Homo sapiens: one gene and its partner. The protein of the gene in region 2 binds, or shares a complex with, the protein of the main gene of each other region. Each region holds a gene or a part of one and is shown on either strand. Other genes may lie near its edges.

Region 1 (7,026 bases), on a different chromosome or scaffold from region 2:
TTCAAGCAATTCTCCTACCTCAGCCTTCCGAGTAGCTGGGATTACAGGCATGTGCCACCACACCCAGCTAAATTTTCTATTTTTTAGTAGAGACAGGGTTTCTCCATGTTGGGCAGGCTGGTCTCAAACTCCCGACCTCAGGTGATTTGCCCGCCTTGGCCTCCCAAAGTGCTGGGATTACAGGCATGAGCCACCACGCCTGGCCTCATTCAACTTTTTTAGACAATACATTCTGTGACTTTTTGCCTGAAGGTAGGTAACCTGGCTACTGATCCTTCTGCCCTCAGCAATGAAGAGGTTGGCTGTTCCATCCACAAACTTTCAATAAATATCCAATAGCCCACATCTGACTCCTGCCCTCTATTAGATATTGTGTTTCTAAATCCAAGACCTCTCTGGTGCTCTAAAGTGAAGATTCATCCTTCCTTGGCTGTAGCCTCTTTACATATATGTGGCTTTCTCTGCCCGGCTCATCAGTCATCACTCTTACATTCTCTGTAGGTCTCCCTAATCTTCATTCAAATCTGCTATCCTTCCCCTTTTTTCATAGCCATGAATTTATAACTTTCTCTATTCATTTACTATTATTTTTAATGGGATCTCAAGGAGAGGGATAAGTAAATATACTAAATCTTGAATTGGAAGATAGCACATACCATTTCAATAGGAATTTTTTGGCAGGGGTGGGAGAATCAGGAGGGAATAATGGTGTAGACTTTATTACCAGATTTACTGTCACTTTTCTTTTTTCTTTTAAGACAGGGTCTTGCTCTGTCACCCAGGCTGGAGTACAATGTTGTGATCATGGATCACTATAGCCTTGACCTCCTAGGCTCAAGCAATCCTCCTGCCTCAGCCTTCTGTGTAGCTGGGACCACAGGCATGCATCACTATGCCTGGCTAAATATTTTATTTTTATTTTTGTAGAGACAGGGTCTCATTTTGTTGCCCAGGCTGGCCTTGAACTCCTGGGCTCAAACTGTCCTCCTGCCTCGGCCTCCCAAAATGCTGGGATTACAGGTGTGAGCCATGGCACCTGATATCACTTTTCTTTATAGTTAAAACTTCCCCTACAGAAGATATAATCTTATAATTGTTGTTACCTCTTCCTCCATGACATAGGTGAGCAGTTTCCAGTCCCACTCCACTGTCTTGGCATTGGCTGGATGTAGCCTGAAAGTCAAGTGAAATCAATTAGAATTATGGAGAATTTAGCGGAAGAAGGGATAGGATCTGAAGGTGATAGAAGGAAGAAGCCTCTTCCTATCCTCCATTATCCTCCATGCTCTTGCTCACTTTCTGGTATCATACCATGTCAATCTGAGAGTAGTGGAACTTCATTGTTTTTTGCTACCCAGTATCCAGTCCCCTTTTGGAAAGCTTTAGTACTATAATTTTGTCTTAAGAAACCAACTCTTCACTACTCTTAACCAACTAGTTTTACCTACCAGAACCCCAAAATGAAGTATGTGGCTTTTTTAGCCAATCGTGCTGTTCTACCCCTCAGTTCACGGTGATTGGCTCAAAGATATGGTCATGTCTCTCATTAGGCCAATTAAATCCTGCAAGACTCAATTTCAGAACTCTTGGGTGACTATAAAGGAAGCAGACACTCTTTCCCACTGGAAGTGTCATAAAAGCCTGAGGCTGAGAGGCTACCACATGCAGCCCCAAAACAGAACTGAGGCTGAGAGGCTACCACATGCAGCCCCAAAACAGAACTGAGGCTGAGAGGCTACCACATGCGGCCCCAAACAGAACTGAGGCTGAGAGGCTACCACATGCGGCCCCAAAACAGAACTGAGGCTGAGAGGCTACCACATGCGGCCCCAAAACAGAACTGAGGCTGAGAGGCTACCACATGCAGCCCCAAACAGAACCGAAGTAGAGCTGCAGAATGAACCCTGGTAACCATTTTTGTATACTGAATCAAGTCACATCTCACTCCTCGGTTTCTAGTAACACGAGCCATTAAATTCTCTTTTAGCAGTAGTTAAGGTCTGTTTGGACTGGGTTTCCTATCATTTGCAATTCAAATAACACTAATATGCTAAGTCACCCACTGTAACGGTTAGGTTAAAAAAGCCTGTCAAGAGAAAGCTATGCCCTGAGTCCAAGATCCCTAGAAGATTCGCCAACAGCCAGAGGTTACGGTTCATACTGTTGAATTTTCATGAGAAGCATGTAGGCCTCCTTTAGGACATCCACAGTCTCAGAGCCACTGAGCAAGATTTTCTGGATGATGTGAGCCACGATTTCTCTTGGTGGGTAATGCTGGGGTGACACAAAGTCCATCAAAAACTGCACAGTCCCCAGAGGAAAATTCTCTTCAATGGTATTTGTTACCATTCTTAGTCTTCGATGAGGGATGGGTTCTAATTTTTGACCCTTGTTCTGTAGAGATTAAAAAGAAGGAAATTAGGAGGGATTTCTTTTCTTTTTTTTTTTTTTTTTTTTTTGAGACGGAGTCTTGCTCTGTTCCCCAGGCTGGAGTGCAGTGGCGTGATCTCAGCTCACTGCAAGCTCTGCCTCCCGAGTTCATGCCATTCTCCTGCCTCAGCCTCCAGAGTAGCTGGGACTACAGGCGCCCACCACCACGCCCGGCTAATTTTCTTTTGTATTTTTAGTAAAGACAGGGTTTCACGGTGTTAGCCAGGATGGTCTCAATCTCCTGACCTCGTGATTTGCCTGTCTCAGCCTCCCAAAGTGCTGGGATTACAGGTGTGAGCCACGGCGCCGAGCCGGGATTTCTATAGTATACAAAAATAAGAGGTTCTAGAATACGTTGAAGATAGCAAAGTTTTCCAGGCATTTGAAATATTTCATGATTAAAAAAAAAAAAAGAGGACGGGTGCAGTGGCTCATGCCTGTAATCCCAGCACTTTGGGAGGCCAAGGCAGGAGAACTGCTTGAGGTCAGGAGTTCGAGAGCAGTCTGGCCAACATGGTGAAACCCCGTCTCTACTAAAAATATAAAAATTAGCCAGACGTGGTGGCACGCAACTGTAGTCCCAGCTACTTGAAGGCTGAGACATGAGAATTGCTTAAACCCGGAAGGTGGAGGCTGCAGTGAACCAAGATGGCGCCACTGCACTCCAGCCTAGGTGACAGAGCGAGACTCCAAATCAAAACAGACAAAAAAGAGCTTTATCTAAAAAACTTTTAATGACATGGGAAAAAGCTCATATAAAGTTAAAAAATCAGAATTCAAAATTGTACATATAACATGATTTCATCTATGTTAAAATATAGCATAGACAGAAAAATACAAAAGGGTCAACAGGTAGCCTAGGTTGATTTTGGGGTGAGGGTAACTAGAGACTTAGGGATAGCTGTGATACTATATCAGATACCGAAATAGATAAGAAAGAAGTTTTAAATTCATTTTGTTGTTAGGAGAAGAATTCCATTTTTTTTTTGTGCGAACAGTAAATATTAAGTTGCTTCTTCCCCCAAAAAATATGTATATAAAGACTGCGAGAGAATATGTGAAAAGTGATTTTCTATTATGTGGGTGGTAGAATTAGTGGTGATTTTTTCTCTATGTGCTCTTCTATATTTTTCAATTTTTCCATAACACACTTATTACTTTTATAATTAGAATTAAACAATTTTAAAGTTTGATATGAGGGTTTAATAACAATAAATTTGGAGCTCTTAATTTTTTTTTTTTTTTTGAGATGAAGTCTGGCTCTGTCACCCAGGCTGGAACACAGTGGCATGATCATGGCTCACTGCAACCTCTGCCTCCCAGGCTCAAGCCATCCTCCCACCTCAGCCTCCCAAGTAGCTGGGACTACAGGTGTGTGCCACCATGCCTGGCTAATTTTTTTTAGTATTTTTAGTAGAGATGGGGTTTCACCATGTTGCCCAGGCTGGTCTCGAACTTGTGAACTCAAGTGATCAAGACTGTCTTGGCTTCCCAAAGTGCTGGGATTATAGGTGTGAGCCATCATGTCTGGCCTTAAACAATTAATTTTTTTTTTTTTTGAGATGGGGTCTCGCTGTGTCGCCCACGCTGGAGCACTGTGGCGTGATCCTGGCACACTGCAAGTTCCGCCTCCCGGGTTCATGCCATTCTCCTGCCTCAGCCTCCAGAGTAGCTAGGATATAGGTGTGTGCCACCATATTCAGCTAATTTTTGAATTTTTTATAGAGGGGGTTTCACTATGTTGCCCAGGCTGGTCTCAAACTCCTGGGCTCAAGCAATCCACCGACCACGGCCTCCCAAAATGCTGGGGTTACAGGCGTGAGCCACTGCGCCCAGCACTGAACACTTAATTGATCCTCAACTAGTTCTTACAATAATCTTAGGAAATACATACTATTATTATTCCTATCTCATAAATAAAGAAACAGATTTGGAGGGTAAGCATTTGTCATACAACAAATGGCAGAAGCTGGTTTCAAACACACGTGGCGTAAACTTCAGAGCCATTCTCTCAACCCCTACTCCCCATAAACAACAAAAATAATGTGTATATGTTAAAAATCCCAATTATTAAAATATGTAAAATGCCTATGTATAAAAAGGCAACTGGGAAGGAAAGACATCAAATTATTCACAATAATAAATGCTGTCTGGGCCGGGCGCGGTGGCTCACGCCTGTAATCCCAGAACTTTGGGAGGCCGAGGTGGGCGGATCACTTGAGGTCAGGAGTTCAAGACAAGCCTGGACAACATGGTGAAACCCTGTCTCTACTAAAAGTACAAAAAGCCGGAAGTGGTAGCGGGCACCTGTAACCCAGCTACGCGGGAGGCTGTGGCAGGAGAATCGCTTGAACCTGGGAGGCGGAGGTTGCAGTGAGTGAGCTGAGATCGTACCACTGTACTCCAGCCTGGGTGACAGGGTGAGACTCTGTCCCAAAAAAAAAAGAATGAGCTAGTGGTCAGGCAGAGGCATAAAGAAGGAGAAGACCTACAACATATTAGAAGATGTAATAATTTTAAAAAAGAGAAAAAAAATCATTCTCCAAGGTCAAATCAGTGTGAATCCTTGGCTCCTGCCTACCTGGATCACTGCTTGAATGAGGAGAGCATACCTTTTGACACTGAACTGTTTCAAGCTGGTTTTCTTAATATGGGGGATGGGATGTACATAACTAAAAAACACTTCATACGGTGGAACTTAGCCAGTTATTTTCCCTAACACATCTAGTTTACTTCTCATAAATCAATGATGACCAATGGAAAGGAGCATTCCCACTCATGTCTTAATATTGAATTTCCTCCCCCAAAGTCAGCAAGTAATAATTTTGGAGGCCCATAAGTGATAGAGTATTATTATCTCTGTGATATAGAAGCTGTAATAAGGGCACCAGGAAGGGAAAAGCATAGGAGTTGAAGATAAACATTTATTTATTTTTTTGAGACAGAGTCTTGCTCTGTGGCCAAGGCTGGAGTGCAGTGGTGCAGTCTCAGCTCACTGCAACCTCCGCCTCCCAGATTCAGGTGATTCTCCTGCCTCAGCCTCCTGAGTAGCTGGGATTACAGGTGCATGCCACCACATCCAGCTAGAAGATAAGAATTTACATAAGGCCTACGATGAGCCTGACACCCTGACACTTTCACGTATGACCCTGTGAGGTATGTTATTACTTCCATTTTACAGATAGGAAAGCTAAGGCTTAAAAAGGTAAAGTGCCCTGCTGGGCGCGGTGGCTCATGCCTGTAATCCCAGCACTTTGGGAGGCTGAGGCGGGTGGATTACAAGATCAGGAGATCAAGACCATCCTGGCTAACACAATGAAACCCTGTCTCTACTAAAATACAAAAAATTAGCCGGGCGTGCCAGGCGCGGTGGCTCACGCCTGTAATCCTAGCACTTTGGGAGGCCGAGGCGGGTGGATCACGAGGTCAGGAGATCGAGGCCATTCTGGCTAACACTGTGAAACCCCGTCTCTACTAAAAATACAAAAAATCAGCTGGGCGTGGTAGCGGGCGCCTATAGTCCCAGCTACTCGGGAGGCTGAGGCAAGCGAATGACGTGAACCCGGGAGGCGGAGCTTGCAGTGAGCGGAGATCGTGCCACTGCACTCCAGCCTGGGCGACAGAGCGAGACTCCATCTCAAAAAAAAAAAAAAAAAAAAAAAATTAGCCGGGCATGGCGGCATGCGCCTGTAGTCCCAGCTGCTAGGGAGGCTGAGGTAGAAGAAACTCTTGAACCTGGGAGGCGGAGGTTGCAGTGAGCCAAGATTGTGCCACTGCACTCTAGCCTGGGAGACAGAGCAAGACTCGGTCTCAAAAAAAAAAAAAAAAAAAAAAGTAAAGTGACAGTTTTTAAGCGTGGGGCTAAAATTTGAACCCAGATCTGGGCCTCTACACTGAATGGGTCTTCACAAGTGGAGGAAAGATAAGAAATTTCATTTATGCTTGACCTGTCCTCTCACGCATGGACTCCAGTCACACTGACCTTCTCCTAGGCCTAGGGAAAGGACACCTAATCCCTGAGGGAAGATGTTAGCTCACCTCTCTTGTGTCTTTATCCGGTATTAGCGTCTGAAAGAAGAGGTGATGAACCGGAGGACGTAAGAAGTACTTCAGTCTATGCAGGCATGGTCTGTTGTACAACCCACCTTGTGGTGTTCGTGATTGTACGTGGGCAGACCCAGGTTTGGCAGGCTCTGACAGTGATATTTCTTTTCTGGCTGGGGTTTCCATGACAGAGAGCCAAGGAACTTTCTCTAAGGGAGTTTCAGACTGTGGGCTGGGAGAGCAGCTTGGAGAGGACAGAGCTGAGATATCCATAGGCATGTCACGGTTCTGTACATCATTCTGGGTAAAGTCAGGCCTGTCTCCTGGTAAGTGAGGGATGTCTCTAGGTGAGTGTGTCACGTCCCCTGATGAGTGTGGCATGTCTCCAGGTGAATGTAACACATCTCCCGGTAAGTGTGGCATGCCCCCTGGTGACTGTGGTGCATCTGGTGACGGTGAAACATCACTTGGTGACTGTGGCACATCTCCTGGTGACCGTGGCATGTCTTGCAGGTATGCCACATCTTGTGGATGTAATATGCTTTGAGGCAG
Region 2 (7,026 bases):
ATATTTGCTTATATGATGCCATATTATGCTTTTATTTTCAGGAAGCAGTCAATTATAGATTTCTTCAAACCAGCTTCAAAACAAGGTATGTACACTGTTGATGCATTTTTTGTGGGCTATTTTGGGGGTGAGGAGAGAGACAGATTCAACTTTAAAACCTACTCTAAACTGTTTTAGTAAACGTAGTGTTCAAAATTGAAAATAAAATGAAGATGCAGTATTTTGTTTTACAAGGATAAACTGAAGTTCTAAATATGAAAGTCTTTTTGCTGTTATGTTTTCTTACATTTAAAATATTATTCTAGTAAAAAATTTAATGTTCATAATACATACTATTTTGATTCTCTAATACAGTAATTTATAGAGCCATAGGGAGGTTATATGATGTACCAAAAGAGAGCTTTATGAAACTAAGGCTTTTAACAAATAAATCATCTCTTAATTTCTCCTATACCCCCCAATAAAGTGTGTATCATTATCCAAGTTGTTGGTTTGAAAATTTTTGTGGTAACATTAGTATAGTTTAATTTATATTTTAAACATTAATAATTTAGATAAATATTAAATATTTTACTAACATGCAATTTGTATGTGTTTTAATTGGCTATTTAGACAGACACATGTTGGATTCACCACAAAAATCAAACATCAAATATGGAGGAAGTAGATTGTCTATCACTGGGACAGAGCAGTTTGAAAGGAAACTATCCTCACCAAAAGAATCTAAACCCAAAAGGGTGCCACCAGAAAAGAGCCCTATTATAGAAGCTTTCATGAAAGGTGTTAAAGAGCACCATGAAGATCATGGTATACATGAGTCACGTCGGCCTTGTCTGTCACTAGCCTCCAAATATTTAGCCAAAGGAACAAATATCTATGTTCCTTCTTCATATCACTTGCCAAAGGAGATGAAGTCACTAAAGAAAAAACATCGATCCCCAGAGAGAAGGAAGTCACTATTCATTCATGAAAATAATGAGAAGAATGATAGAGATCGAGGCAAAACCAATGCAGACTCCAAAAAGCAGACCACAGTGGCAGAAGCTGACATCTTCAATAACAGCTCCAGAAGCCTTAGCAGCAGGAGCAGCCTGTCCAGGCACCACCCGGAAGAAAGCCCACTGGGAGCTAAATTCCAGTTGTCACTAGCTTCTTACTGCAGAGAACGAGAACTAAAGAGGTTGAGAAAGGAGCAAATGGAGCAGAGAATCAACTCCGAGAATTCTTTCTCAGAAGCAAGCAGTCTTTCCTTAAAATCTAGTATAGAAAGAAAATATAAACCAAGGCAGGAACAAAGGAAACAGAATGACATCATACCTGGAAAAAATAATCTGTCAAATGTGGTATGTGTAAGAATTATTGAATTAGCATTGCTACTGCTATGTCATATTTAGAATACTAAATTTAAAAATATTTAAGAGTTGTTACATCACATTGACGTCTTTCCTGAAGGAAATACTTATGCACAGTTTGTGTAGAAGCTGGTTTCATTACATTTCCTCCAGTTGCCCTTCATCGAACTCAGTAAAGCAGTGTTTCTTATCCTTAGTTTTTTCAGACTGGGAACAAAGATCTTTTTTAGTCAGAAAAGTAAGCATTCTTTTTTTTTAAGGCAAGTATAGTCTTACTTATTTATGTGTAGACAGTCTTGCTCTGTTGCTCATGCTGGAGTGCTATGGCGTGATCATGTCTCATTGCAGTCTCAAACTCCTGGGCTCAAATGATGCTCTCACCTCAGCTTCCCAAGTAGTCGAGACTCCAGGTACCTGCCACCATATTTGACTAATTTTTGTATTTTTTTGTAGAGACAGGTCTCCCTATACTGCCCAGGCTGGCCTTGAACCCCTGGCCTCAAGCGATCCTCCTGCTTCCTGTACTTTGGGAGGCCTAGGTGGAAGGATTGCTTGAGCTCAGGAGTTTGAGACCAGCCAGAGCCACATATCGAGACCTTGGCTCTACTACAAATAAATAAATAAATAAATAACCAGTCATGGTGGCATGTGCCTGTTCTCCTAGCTACTTAGGAGGCTAAGGTGGGAGGCTCGCTTGAGCCCAGGAGATCAAGGTTGCAGTGAGTTTGATCACACCATTGCACTCCAGCCTGGGTGACAGAGCGAGACCTTGTCTCAAAAATACAGTGTTCTAATATAATATTCTTGAATTATTGATATAAACGTAAATCAGCATTTTGAAAACTGACTTCATTTTTATGATATTTTTACATGTTTATGATACAAATGCCCTTAATTTTTATGACAAAAACCTTAAGATCTTTAAATATTTTATTATAGACATTAGGATTTACCTCCAAATATGGGTGCTTGCCTTATTCAATCTAGAAATCTGTGTTTAAATGTTAGGAAGAATGCCTTCACATTCTTTACTGTCCCCAACACTTAATTAATTTTATCTCATTGTGCTCATAGGAAAATGGACATCTCTCAAGAAAAAGATCCTCTTCTGATTCATGGGAACCTACTTCAGGTAGAATCAAAATTAAATTTATGGATTTCTAAATAAATTTCCATTTTAATGGCACTGCTTTTTAAAATAAATTTGTTTAAATATGCAGTTCCCTTCTTGGGGATGAATTAAGTGTCTCATATTAATTAAGAGTTTGGTAAGATCATATTAAAAAAGACTAGTCCCTGAATCTAGTACTTATAATTTGGGTTTGTTTTTGAGACAGGGTCTTACTCTGTCACCCAGGCTGGGATGCAGTGGCATGATCACGACTCAACTGCAAGCCTTGACCTCCTGGCCTCGAATGATTCTCCCACCTCAGCTTCCTGAGTAGCTGGGACTACAGATGTGGGCAACTATGCCTGGTTAATTTCTTGTATTTTTGTAGAGACGAGGTTTCGCCACGTTGCCCAGGCTGGTCTCAAACTCCTGAGCTCATGAGCCACCACACCTGACCTAGTGCATATAATTTGTAATCTGTCTTGAATCTCTGCCCTCTTCAGGAGTTCCTAACAGTATGTTTCTCATACTGGTATTCAGTGTTTCCTTCTGAATCCTTGGCTACATCAGGAAACATAATCTTTTTTTTTTTTTTTTTTTTTTTTTTTTTGAGACAGAGTCTCGCTCTGTCGCCCAGGCTGGAGTGCAGTGGTGTAATTTGGCTCATTGCAAGCTCCGCCTCCCGGGTTCACACCATTCTCCTGCCTCAGCCTCCCAAATATCTGGGACTACAGGCGCCCACCACCATGCCCGACTAATTTTTTGTATTTTTAGTGGAGACGGGGTTTCACCACGTTAGCCAGGATGGTCTCGATCTCCTGACCTCGTGATCTGCCCACCTCGGCCTCCCAAAGTGCTGGGATTACAGGCATGAGCCACTGCACCGGGCCCCCAGGAAACATAATCTTATTATCTTGGAATTGTAGACTGAGTTGTTGGTATTATGTTGAAGATGCTTTGTATAGGGTTGAGACTGTTACCATGATAAAAAGCAGTGTTCTCTAATATTTCAAATCCAAGGATCCCTTTTTAATATTAAATTTCAAGGATATCTACATGACATTAGTTTGTACTTTTAGCATTTATTGATTGAAAAAAATATAAAATAACAAATCTGTTAATTCAGTACATTTTATCTTTTTTTAAAACTAGAAAATAGAAGATTAAAAAGGCAAACACTGCAGAAGTTTGCAACAAGAAATGAAAGGTCTCCACAACTAACAACAGTTAATAGTCTAGTGTATCCGATTTTTTTCCTGATGTGACTATACATTTTGAAAAACAAATTCCCACATTCAGTAAGATACATTGGACACGATAATAATAGCTGGCTTTCATTGAGTACTTACTGTGTGCTATGCCATTTTATGTGCTTCTAATTCGTTTGAACCTCATAACTTTATATGATAGTGGTTTACTTTTAGAGATGGAAAAGCCAAAGTACAGAGAGTCAGTTCTAATTCCTCCTTCAGGTTTCATCTACTTCATTTTATTTATATTTTAGAGGTGCATTGCATTTTGACCAAGAACTCTCAACTGGTAAAATCAATCTTCAGCCAAGGCTGAAACCATATTTTACCATTATAGAAGGAACTTCTAGGATACAGGAATAAATCTAAAGTTTTGTGTGTTTTTTGTTTATTTAATTTTTATAATGTTGCTGATTTTATGACCAAATTTTAGTGAATTTTGACATTATTGTAGAAGAACAGGAATTTCTCAGCCAGGAGATTGCTTCTGCACTCACTGTATTGCACATTTTTAATACTAAATACATGATCACCTTGCACCAAAGTTAATGGAAGAACAAAATATTATTTTATATAAGGGGCTGCTGCTGGTGGTGTGGCTACCACATTATTCCTTTTCTTTTTTCTCTGACTTAAGATTTGAAAAAATCTTTTCATTTCCTGGATTTGCAAATTTCATTCATGGTGGCTAAAGTAGTTTCATTTATATAATCCCACCTAGCAAAGTTTTTGAGTACTGCTTGGAAAAGATGCTTTCTACATATTTTCAGAGGCTGACTTATGATGGTTGCCGTCACTTATATTTTTATTACCAATATTTTTGCATGTGTTTCATAATCACTAATAATTATAGCATTATACTCTTAATAAATATACATTTATACTTCAATTGACTAACATCAACAGAATTTCAACATGTAAAGGACAAGGGGATATTTCAATCTAGATAGCATGAAGAATGCTTATTGTGTCTGATAGCAAAATTATTAAAAATCTAAGCCAGGCGCAGTGGTTCATGCCTGTAATCCCAGCACTTTGGGAGGCCAAGGCAGATGGATCACCTGAGGTCAGGAGTTCGAGACCAGCCTGGCCAACATGGTGAGACCTCGTCTCTACTAAAATTACAAAAATTAGCTGGGCATGGTGCCCAAGCCTGTAATCCCAGCTACTCAGGAGGCCAAGGCAGGAAAATTGCTTGAACCTGGAAGGTGGAGGTTGCAGTGAGCTGAGATGGTGCCACTGCACTCCAGCCTGGGTGTCAGAGCAGGACTCAATCTCGAAAAAAATAAATAAATAAAAATAAAAATCCAAATGATATGTCTTGTTCATCTTGTTAATACACTTAATCAATTGTCATGGTAATGTACATAATCACGCAATCATTAATCACATACAAGTTCAGGGATTTCAGAAGTAATGTTAGACTAGGCATTTAGCCCTTTGGTCTTCTAGAGCCCTGTCTTTTGGCTGAATTGTGAGGGGAAATTTAATCCATTGCTAGTACATTTCGTAACTGATTAATAACCAATCACCTATTAATGGCCTTTGGATTTTTCCTTTTTCTTGAGATGGAGTCTCACTGTCTCCTAGGCTGGAGTGCAGTGGTGAGATTGTAGCTCACTTGCAGCACTGAACTCCTGGGCTGAAGCAATCCTCCTGCCTCAGCCTCCCAAAGTGCTGGGATTACGGGCGTGAGCCACCATGCCCAGCCTCCTTTTTTTCTTTTTACAAACTCAATCTCTCTCTTATATGAATATTTTATGTATTAGTATATTTGAAATATTTGAAAAACTGTAAAACAAATATTCTCTACAGGCTGACAAAGGATACAAAAAGAATTATGAACATTTTGCAATTAATCACCTGACCTGAAGAGCTTGCTAAAGGGGATCCTACCTGCAGTACCAATTCACTTTTCTCTAATTCTAGATGATGAAACCCCTTAATAAGCTGACTTATCCTAAACATCTTCCACAAACAGTGTTTGTCTCCTCCTGGATCAACCCTGAATAATGCCTGAGCAAAGCAGGAATTTCTCCTCATTTCTAGCTATATTTAAATTATCTGACTTCTCTAGAAAAATGGAACAAAACTCAAACTGGCAGCTCTGTAGCTCATTTTTTGTAATCCCATACTTAAAAGTAAGATAATGAGCCAAATCTTCTCTTTTGTTTAGTCATTTAATTTCTCATCCTGTTACCCCTGTCCTTTTTGTAAGACATTTAACCCCAGAAAACTGAATAGGATGGAATGATTTCCTCAGGTAATGGGAGATATCTGTAAAAGAGCAGAGATAAGGGCATTTGTTAATTAGTTAATTTAATTTTTATAAATTGAATTTTTCAGATTATATATTGATCAAGCTATCCAAATAATAATTGCCTCTCAAGTTTGGTTTTGGCGGGTTTATTTTATTTTATTTACTCATTTTGATTCAAGGTCTTACTCTGGTGCCCAGGCTGGAGTGCAATGGCACAATTACAGCTCACTGTAGCCTCACGGGGCTCAAGCAGTCCTCCCACCTGAGCCTCCAAGTAGGTGGGACTACAGGCACATGCCACTGCACCCGGCTAATTTTTGTATTTTTTGTAGAGACTATTTCACCATGTTGCCTAGGCTGGTCTCAAACTCCTGAGCCCAAGTGATCCTCCCAAAGTGCTGGGATTACAGGCATGAGCCACTAGACATGGCCAAAAGATAAGAAATTTTCTAACTAGAGAAGGGATTGACGGGGTTGTACTTTTCGCAGAGGCAGGGTTTCACCTGAGCTCACGAACTCCCACCTTGGCCTCCCAAAGTTGTGGTATTACAGGCATGAGCCACTGTGCCCAGCCATTTTAGGTTTTTAAAGCAACTCTTGGGGAATGGAGACATCTGTCCATGTGCAGAAAATTTGATTTAGGGAAATCTGGTTTGGGGAATACTGATTGCACAAATAGTGAATTTTTTGTGTTTTTTTTTGTTGTTGTTTTGTTTTTTTGAGTTGAAGTCTTGCTTTGGTACCTAGGCTGGTCTTGAACTCCTGGGCTCAAGTTATCTTCCCACCTCAGCCTCCTGAGTAGCTGGGACTATATAGGCACACACCACTGCACCAGGTTAAAGTGAATTTTTTTTTTTTTTTTTGAAACGGAGTCTTGCTCTGTTGCCCAGACTGGCGTGCAGTGGTGCCGTCTTGGCTCAGTGCAACCACCACCTCCCAGGTTCAAGCGATTCTCCTGTCTTGGCCTCCCAAGTAGCTGGGAGTACAGGCACGCACCACCATGCCTGGCTAATTTTTGTATTTTCAGTAGAGACAGGGTTTCACCATGTTGGC

What was found. Proteins that work in one complex are often made in the same cells at the same time.
Region 1: the proteins of SLF2 (region 2) and SIMC1 are in contact, whole or in part, in a cryo-EM structure (PDB 7T5P), measured with the Homo sapiens proteins. Residues at the interface, in NP_060591.3 of Homo sapiens: His738, Val772, Leu775, Lys778, Asp783, Phe786, Gln790, Gly791, Phe792, Thr794, Ser795, Ala796, Tyr797, His798, Tyr799, Cys820, Ile821, Gln825, Ser828, Met831, Glu832, Ile835, Arg836, Asp838, Thr839, Ser841, Asp842, Ser843, Pro847, Lys919; in NP_001295125.1 of Homo sapiens: Tyr426, Arg428, Leu431, Lys435, Leu438, Pro440, Val442, His443, His444, Leu445, Phe447, Gln448, Arg470, Arg471, Phe490, Asp493, Pro497, Val521, Asp522, Lys525, Glu526, Tyr528, Met529, Met532, Lys533, Gln536, Leu537, Arg571, Asn658, Gln661.

The regions. Positions count from the first base shown.
Region 1 is NC_000005.10:176,290,398-176,297,423, reverse strand, and holds part of SIMC1 (SUMO-interacting motif-containing protein 1), read right to left. Parts: coding exon 6,469-7,026; intron 2,395-6,468; coding exon 2,162-2,394; intron 1,174-2,161; coding exon 1,104-1,173; intron 1-1,103.
Region 2 is NC_000010.11:100,915,958-100,922,983, forward strand, and holds part of SLF2 (SMC5-SMC6 complex localization factor protein 2), read left to right. Parts: intron 1-41; coding exon 42-85; intron 86-612; coding exon 613-1,343; intron 1,344-2,426; coding exon 2,427-2,484; intron 2,485-7,026. UniProt on the Homo sapiens protein: Plays a role in the DNA damage response (DDR) pathway by regulating postreplication repair of UV-damaged DNA and genomic stability maintenance.